2 linked regions of the Homo sapiens genome follow. The protein of the gene in region 1 purifies or fractionates together with the protein of each later gene. This does not show direct contact. Each region holds a gene or a part of one and is shown on either strand. Other genes may lie near its edges.

What was found.
Region 2: the proteins of RSRC1 (region 1) and PPP2R3A purify together in Homo sapiens (co-immunoprecipitation; one large-scale study listed by IntAct). This does not show direct contact.

The regions. Positions count from the first base shown.
Region 1 is NC_000003.12:158,200,579-158,204,403, forward strand, and holds part of RSRC1 (serine/Arginine-related protein 53), read left to right. Parts: intron 1-2,493; coding exon 2,494-2,667; intron 2,668-3,825. UniProt on the Homo sapiens protein: Has a role in alternative splicing and transcription regulation. Involved in both constitutive and alternative pre-mRNA splicing. May have a role in the recognition of the 3' splice site during the second step of splicing.
Region 2 is NC_000003.12:135,972,008-135,975,832, forward strand, and holds part of PPP2R3A (serine/threonine-protein phosphatase 2A regulatory subunit B'' subunit alpha), read left to right. Parts: intron 1-3,825. UniProt on the Homo sapiens protein: The B regulatory subunit might modulate substrate selectivity and catalytic activity, and might also direct the localization of the catalytic enzyme to a particular subcellular compartment.

The sequences.
Region 1 (3,825 bases):
TTCCTTTTGGATTAATGAGTATTTTTAATAATTCCTTTAAAAGCAATCTATTGACTTTTTAGCTATACTTATTTTCTTCTTTTTTTAGTAGTTGCTCTAAGGATTACAGTATATGCTCTTAACATTTCAGTGTACTTAAAGTTATTATTTCACCATTTAATGTGAAATATAGGAACCTTTTAACAGTATAGGTTCATTTACCTGCCCCATGCTTTATTCTATAGAGGTTATTTGTATTATGTCTACTTTCAGTATAAACCTTAGAGTAAAATGCTATTATTTTTACTTTGAGCACTTATATGTGTTTTAAATAAATTAAGGGAAATAAGCAGTTTTTGATACTTACCCATTTATTTACTTTCTATTAGTCTTCATTTCCTCCTAAAGAGCCATGCTTTCATCTGTTGTCATTCCTTTTCAGCCTGAAGAACTTTCTTTAGTATTTATTGTAATGCAAGTCTTCTGTTGATATTTGTTTACTTTTCCTTTGTCTCAAAAATGTCCTTATTTTACTTTCATTTTTGAGGGATGTTTTTGCTGGGTATAAAATTCTAGGTTGACCTTTTGTTTTCTTTCACCATGTTAAGAATTTCATTCCACTGTCTTCTGATTTCCATTATTTTTGATAAGAGGTCAGTAGCAATAATTTGTATCATTGTTCCCCTGTATGTAATGTGTTGTTTTTTCCTCTGAATACTTTCAAGATTTCTCTTTACCTTTAGTTTTTATCAATTTGACTGTAGTATTTCTAATCATGGTCTTCTTAATATTTATCTTACTTGGTTTGTTGAACTTCTAATATAGAATCTGTAAATTTGTCTTTTATTAAATTTGGAAAATTTTCACTCACCACTGAAAAAATGTTTTCTGCTTCATCCTCTGTTTTCTCTATTTCTGGGTTTAAATAAACATGTTAGGCATTTGAATCTTGTCACACAGATCCCTGAGGGGCTTTCTTATTACAGTCTTTTTTCCTCTTAATTCTTCATATTGGGTAATTTTGATTGATTTATTTGCATGTATACAGATTCTTTCCTCTGTTATTACCAGTGTGCTTTTAATCTCATCCAGCATAATTTTAATTTCAGAGATTGTGTTTTTCAATTACAGAATTTTTTTTCGTATTCTGGTATTTCTATTGAGATTGCTTAACTTTATCTTCATTATAAGCCTAGTTACACTTAATGCTTTAAAATCCTTATCTGCTAATTTTAACATCTAGTTTAGTCTCAGGGTTGCTCTTCATATGCTGTCTTTTCTTTTAAGAATAGAACACATTTTTTGTGTTTCTTCATATATCTAGGAATTTTGAGTTTTTATCCTGGACAAAGTGAATATCATATTATGAATACTCTGTTATTTTCCTCGAAAAATGTACCTTTGTTTATTTTTTTGTTTAGGAGGGAAATCACATGGTTGGATTAAAATGGCAACAATTCTGTTTTGTTTGTTTTGAGATGGAGTCTTTCTCTGTCACCCAGGCTGGAGTGCAGTGGTGCAATCTGGGCTCACTGCAACCTCCACCTCCGAGGTTCAAGTGATTCTCCTGTTTCAGCTTCTTGAGTAGCTGGGATTACAGGCATGTGCCACCACGCCCAGCTAATTTTTATATTTTTAGTAGAGATGGAGTTTCACCATGTTGGCCAGGCTGGTCTCGGACCCCTGACCTCAAGTGATCTGCCCGCCTTGGCCTCCCAAAGTGCTGGGATTACAGGCGTCAGCTGCTGCACCCAGCATGAATATAAAATATATTTAATATTCACTAAGTGGAAGTGGGTCATCATAAAGGTTGTCATCCTCATCTTCATGTTGAATAGGCTCAGAAGGAAGAGGCAGAGGTGGGGTTTGCCTTGCTGTCTCAGTGGTGGCAGAGATGGAAGAAAATCCACATGTAAGTGGATCCATGCGGTTGAAACCCATGTTGTTCAAGGGTCAACCTGAGTTGTTTTTAAAAATTATCTGTAGGGTTGTCAGTCTGGTAGATTATATATATATATATATATGTTTTATCAATATTGTAACCAGAACCTGAAATAATTACTTCTTAGTATTTTACTGTAATGCATTTAATACAAAGAATAGCTGGATTGGAGTGGATCAGTATTTATATTGGAACAATTAGAAATAAGAAATAAGGTTGAATAGATAATGGAAGCAAAGATTGTAGAGAAAAGGAAAGCCTTATTCTTGTAGATTAAATTAGATACATTATTTGAGGAGATGTGAATAATTAAGACTAGATTTGAACCTTTAAGGCAAACACTTTTTAACTGCATCATAATTTCCTATAAAGTTAGCATATATATTTCCCTCATATTAAGTGAGAGCATTTACTTATAAAGAATCATATTCAGGTGCTTGCTTCACGTGGTTATTTATTTCTGAGTCCACAACTAAAACTAAGTAGTTTTTTTCAGATAATTTAAAAGAGTATTTACTTTTCACGATACAAATTATACACTAAGTTTATTTAACAAAATCTGCTTACTGTAGGTCCAGGTCAAGACCTCGTCTCCGTTCTCATAGTCGTAGCAGTGAAAGGTCCAGTCACAGAAGAACGCGTAGTCGGTCTCGGGATAGAGAACGACGTAAGGGCAGAGATAAAGAGAAAAGAGAAAAGGAGAAGGATAAAGGGAAGGACAAGGAATTACATAACATCAAACGTGGGTAAGTTGGAGCAAATCTTATCTGGTAAGGACTTGGTGATTCCATGGCGATGTTCAAACTAAATTTTTGTTCTCTGAGGTTTTTCTTGTGGCTTATTTGCTATAAGAGTAGAAGAAAATGGAATAAAAAGAGAGAATACAGTAGAGAAGGAAGAAAGGATAAATCAAAATAGTTACCTCAGATTTTTACTGTGGTACATTTTCATTTCTATTTTTATTTAATAATAATATAACAATATTGGAATCAATATAAACAGCAATATCAAAGTTTAGTATGTAAGTAGAGGAAAATTTGCCTAATTCTGTAGGAAAGTTTCATACTCTGTTTCCTTTGTTATGAGTATGAACTTAAAATTTGTAGACTACTTAGTGATTAAAAATGTCTATTACCATATTGTAAAGCTGTTAGCGGAAAAGTATAAAGTTGAAACAGAAGGAGGGGACCATGTGATTTACTATTGTTTAAGCCTTTTTTAGTATAGAATGGGAGCTTGGGCAATATTAGGGTATGTGTGTGTTTGTAAGAGTGAGTGTATCTGCTTATGAGGTCCAGATTTTATTTTTCATAGAATTGATATTATTAAAACAATGAGATTCTAGTTTTGTCCATTTAGAGACAGAACTTGAAATCCACTCATAAGTGTTTGTCAAATTAGAAAACATTAAAATGAAACAATCTTTTTTAACAGAGTAAATTTACAGCATCTTGTTTGTTTTATTCAAAATTGTAATTGGGGTCTTTTATTCTAGGAAGTAGAATCTAATCTTGGAATTTATCCTCTTTTGTCAGTCTTTCAGTGTCTTGTGTGAATATATTTATTGTAATACTTCAATATAAATGTGTTTATATTTAATGTATTAGTTTTCCATGTTGAAGAGTTTACTAGGATTGCACATATAGTATCCTGAGATCTTGATTCTATAAAGAATTATTAAGTTTATTAAAAGATACAGAACTCTTTCCTCATTCCTTTCTTTTTCACAGTTGTTTGTGTGTTTATTTTTTATTTCCAAATTTATAGTGATGTTATATAAATCTGCCTAGATTGTTGGCTTTTAAGTATTCTTTAAATGTTAAATTTGTGGTGGAGTTTGGAAGAGGATAACATATTATTATGTGACTTTTGTTCACCTGATCATCCCACAACCATTAATGTAC
Region 2 (3,825 bases), about 22 Mb from region 1:
GTGTACAAATCAGTTACTTCAGTATGTACATTCACAATGTTGTGCAGCCATCACCGCTAATTCTGGAACATTTTCATCACCCCAAAAGGAAACCCTGTACCCATTAAGCAGTCACTCGCCATTCCCCTTTACCCCTACCGTCTGGCACCCGCCAATTTGCTTTCTGTCTATATGGATTTGCCTGTTCTGAAGATTTCATATAAATGGAATCATACAATATGTAACCTTTTGTGCCTGGCTTCTTTCATTCAGCACAATGTATACGAGGTTCACTCAGGTTGTAGCATGTATCAGTACTTCATTCTTTCTTTGGCTGAATAATACTCCATTGTATGGATATACTACGTTTTGTTTATCAGTTGACATTTAGATTGTTTACACCTTTTGGCTCTTATAAATAGTATTGCTAAGAGCATTCTTCTACAAGTTTTTGTTTAAATACCTGTTTTCAATTCTTTTGTGCATGTATCTAGGAATAGAATTGCTGGATTATGAAATAATTCTATGTTTAAAAAGTTTTTGAGGAACTCCCAGACTGTTTTCCACAGATGCTGCACACTTTTACATTTTTTCCAGCAATTTTTGAGAATTCTAGTTTCTCCACCTCCTCGCCAGCACTTTTGTTTTCTGGTTATAGCCATCCTAGTGGGTGTGAAGTGGTGCCTCATTGTGATTTTTATTTGTATTTCCCTAATGACTACTGACGTTGAGCATCTTTTCATGTGTTGGCCATTTGTGTATCTTTGGAGAAATGTCTGTTCAAGTCTTTTATCAATTTTTTAATTGGATTGTCTTTTGGTTGTTGAGTTTAAGAGTTCTTTACATATGTAAATATGGATACAAATCAGGTTTATGATTTGCAAATATTTCCTGTCTTACTGTGTGCTGTTTTTTCACTTTCTTGTTAGTGTTCTTTGCACAGAAGTTTTTAATTCGTGTGAAGTTGAATTTGTTTTTTCTTTGATTGTGTATGCTTTTGGCATTATATCTGACAATCTATCACCAAATCCAAGGTCCTGCCAGTTTACTCCTGTGTTTTCTTCTGGCAATATATAGTTTTAGTTCTTAACATTTAGCTATTTGGTGGATTTTGAGTTAATTATTGTATGTGAGGTAAGGATTCAACTTCATTCTTTTGCATGTGAATATCCAGTTATCCCAGCATAATTTGTTGAAAGAGCTGTGTGATTTATGCAAGTCTGAGACTCTTATTTGTAAAATGAAAGTGATAAAAACACTTGCCTCACAAAGTTGTTGTAAGATTAAATAGGAGAGGATATATGTATTACCACTTTGAAAAGTATATATCATTAAACAAATACTCATGATTATTATTGGCATGCCACATAGAGCTTTCATTTGGTCAAGGCCGCATAGATTGATGTCCTTCAGGGACCACCACACATCTTCCCTCTTAGTGCATAGTGAATCACGACGTAACTAAAGGACTGTGATCCATGTTGTATCCCTAGGTCCAAAGTCACAGGGCCCCAGATGCAAGAGGTAGTTGGAGAGATTGCAGCTATCCAGAATTGAAAGTATATTTTCTTGTAGGGCATGTGTTTGTTGAATTCTGTTGCTATTCCTCATATTGAGGAATGTCTATTCTAGGTGTTTAAAGGCCCTAAAGAGTTTTCAGGCATAGTAGGAAATTAAAAGGCAGTTTCTTCTTATTGGACCAAGAATCCTCATGTTTCACTCTATCAGCTTTTAAACTTCCAGAACTAAGACTGTTTAAATGGCTAGTGATCTCACTTAGTTCAGTCAACAAATACTTACTAATTTATCACTATGTGCCAGGCACTGTTCTAGATACCGGAGATATAGTGCCTTTTAATATAAGACCAAACTCTCTTGACTTTGCATTCCCCTCTCAATTTGTTTTCTACAGTTATCTAACTCACTGACTCCAGTTCCTTTTCCACCAGTCTCTCTTGAGTCCACATTAATCAGGCCCCTTCCCCCACTGAAGCACTCTTGTCAAGCTCACCACTGACCTTCATGTTGCTAGCTCTAGTGAATCAGTTCTCAGTCTTCCTCTTACTTGACCTTTCAGCAGCATTTTACACAGTTGATTATTCCTCTTTCTTTGAAACGCGTCCTTCATTTAGCTTTGCTGCATTCTCTGCATTTCCCTCTCACCTTATTGGAGGTTTAGTCTTTTTGCTAGTTCCTCATGATCTTCCTGACGCCTAAAAGTTGGAGCATTACATGGCTCATTAATACTCCATTCTTCCTTATTGACTCTTATTTCCTTGGCATTTCAGTCAGTCTCATGACTTTAAATACCATCTATACACCAACAACTACATGCTGACTACCAAATGTATATCTCCAAGTTAGGAAGGAAATAACTGCAGTAACGTCTTTTCCTTGCTTATGTCCTTCTCTGACGGCCTATTCCCAACTCAGCAGCCGGAGGAATCTTGTTAAAAGTAAGTTATCCACTCAGAGGCTTTACACTTTCCTACAAGGCCCCTACATAATCTGAACTCCTCTTTGTCTTTCTGACCTCATCTGTTACTGCTCTTCCCTGTGCTTGCTTTGTCCCAGTCAAAAAGGGGACTTTTTTCTTCTTCCAACAAGCCAGGTATGTTCCTTCCACAGGACCTTTGTTTCTCCTAGTAAAGCTTCCTCCCTCGTTCTCTGTCTCCCTTCCCTTTCAAACTCTGCTTCTCAGCACTTTGGGGTAAAAGGGAGGGGTATCCTCCCACCCCAACCCCCTAGACTGAGCACTAAGGCTATCCCCTTCCTCTTGTTTGTTTATTCATCTTACACTTTCATTTGAACAGAGTTCCTCCAGTTGAAAAAGCAGCTTGAAAACTGCTTCTCTGTGAGATTAGAAATAAAAAGCAGAGATTAGTGGTTGTGAATGGAAATGTCATTAAGGGCTTAGGAATCCTAGCAAGGGCCACTTATCCCTTCCATTTTGTAGATCGTAGGCATATTTCCTATTTTACAGCCTTGGGGATTGGGCCCCAGAATACTGCTGTTGTGAGTACTGATGTGCTCCTACCAATGCCAAGTCTTCCATCAAGCACTGTGGCCCAGCTGTTAGCATTTTGTCTTCTCTCAACATGATACATCTTGGCAGTCTTGGTATTCTTCTAGTAGAAGGTTGAGACCCCTTTCCCATGGTGGGCCCTCAATGAGTGGAGGCTCACTGGGTGCTGGCAGCAGTATTGAGATCCAAGTATTAAAGGCAATTGAGGGTTCTGTGTAATGAAGAGTGTGTTGATTCTACTGAGAAATGCCCCAGGCCTTAAAAGGGCAAACAGGCCACATCTAGTGACAGTCTATCTAGATAGCAAGTTTAGACACTTCATCAGGGGCAGTGTTTCTCAGCCTTTGTCTGCAAACCTACAGGCCTTTATGTGGGCCCTCTGGTGGGTTCATGTTATTAAAATCTGGAATGGTGTCTGTTCTGATTTGTTGTTTTAGAAGAAAAGGTATTATTTCTAAGAATTTTAGCCAAACAAGTATTATATAAATACAGTCTCTTTGCTTTCCTTTTCCTAGATGAGCTGATTTCCTAGATAATAAACAAGTAGATAAATTAATATAATTTCAGATAGTAGTAATAGTGCTATGAAGAAAATAAAGTGGAGGGCTTTTCCCCTGATGCTGAACACTTGGGTTGTTTCCAATTTTTCCGTGTTTTAAACATTACTGCAATGAACATCCTGGTACTTGGGCAAATGTGTGAATGTTTATATTGCATAGATTCTGAAAGGTGGAATTGCTGAGTCATATAATCATATAGCTAAAATTTTAATTAAAAACTGCCAAATTGGTCCCCAAGTTATCTGTACTAATATTACATAT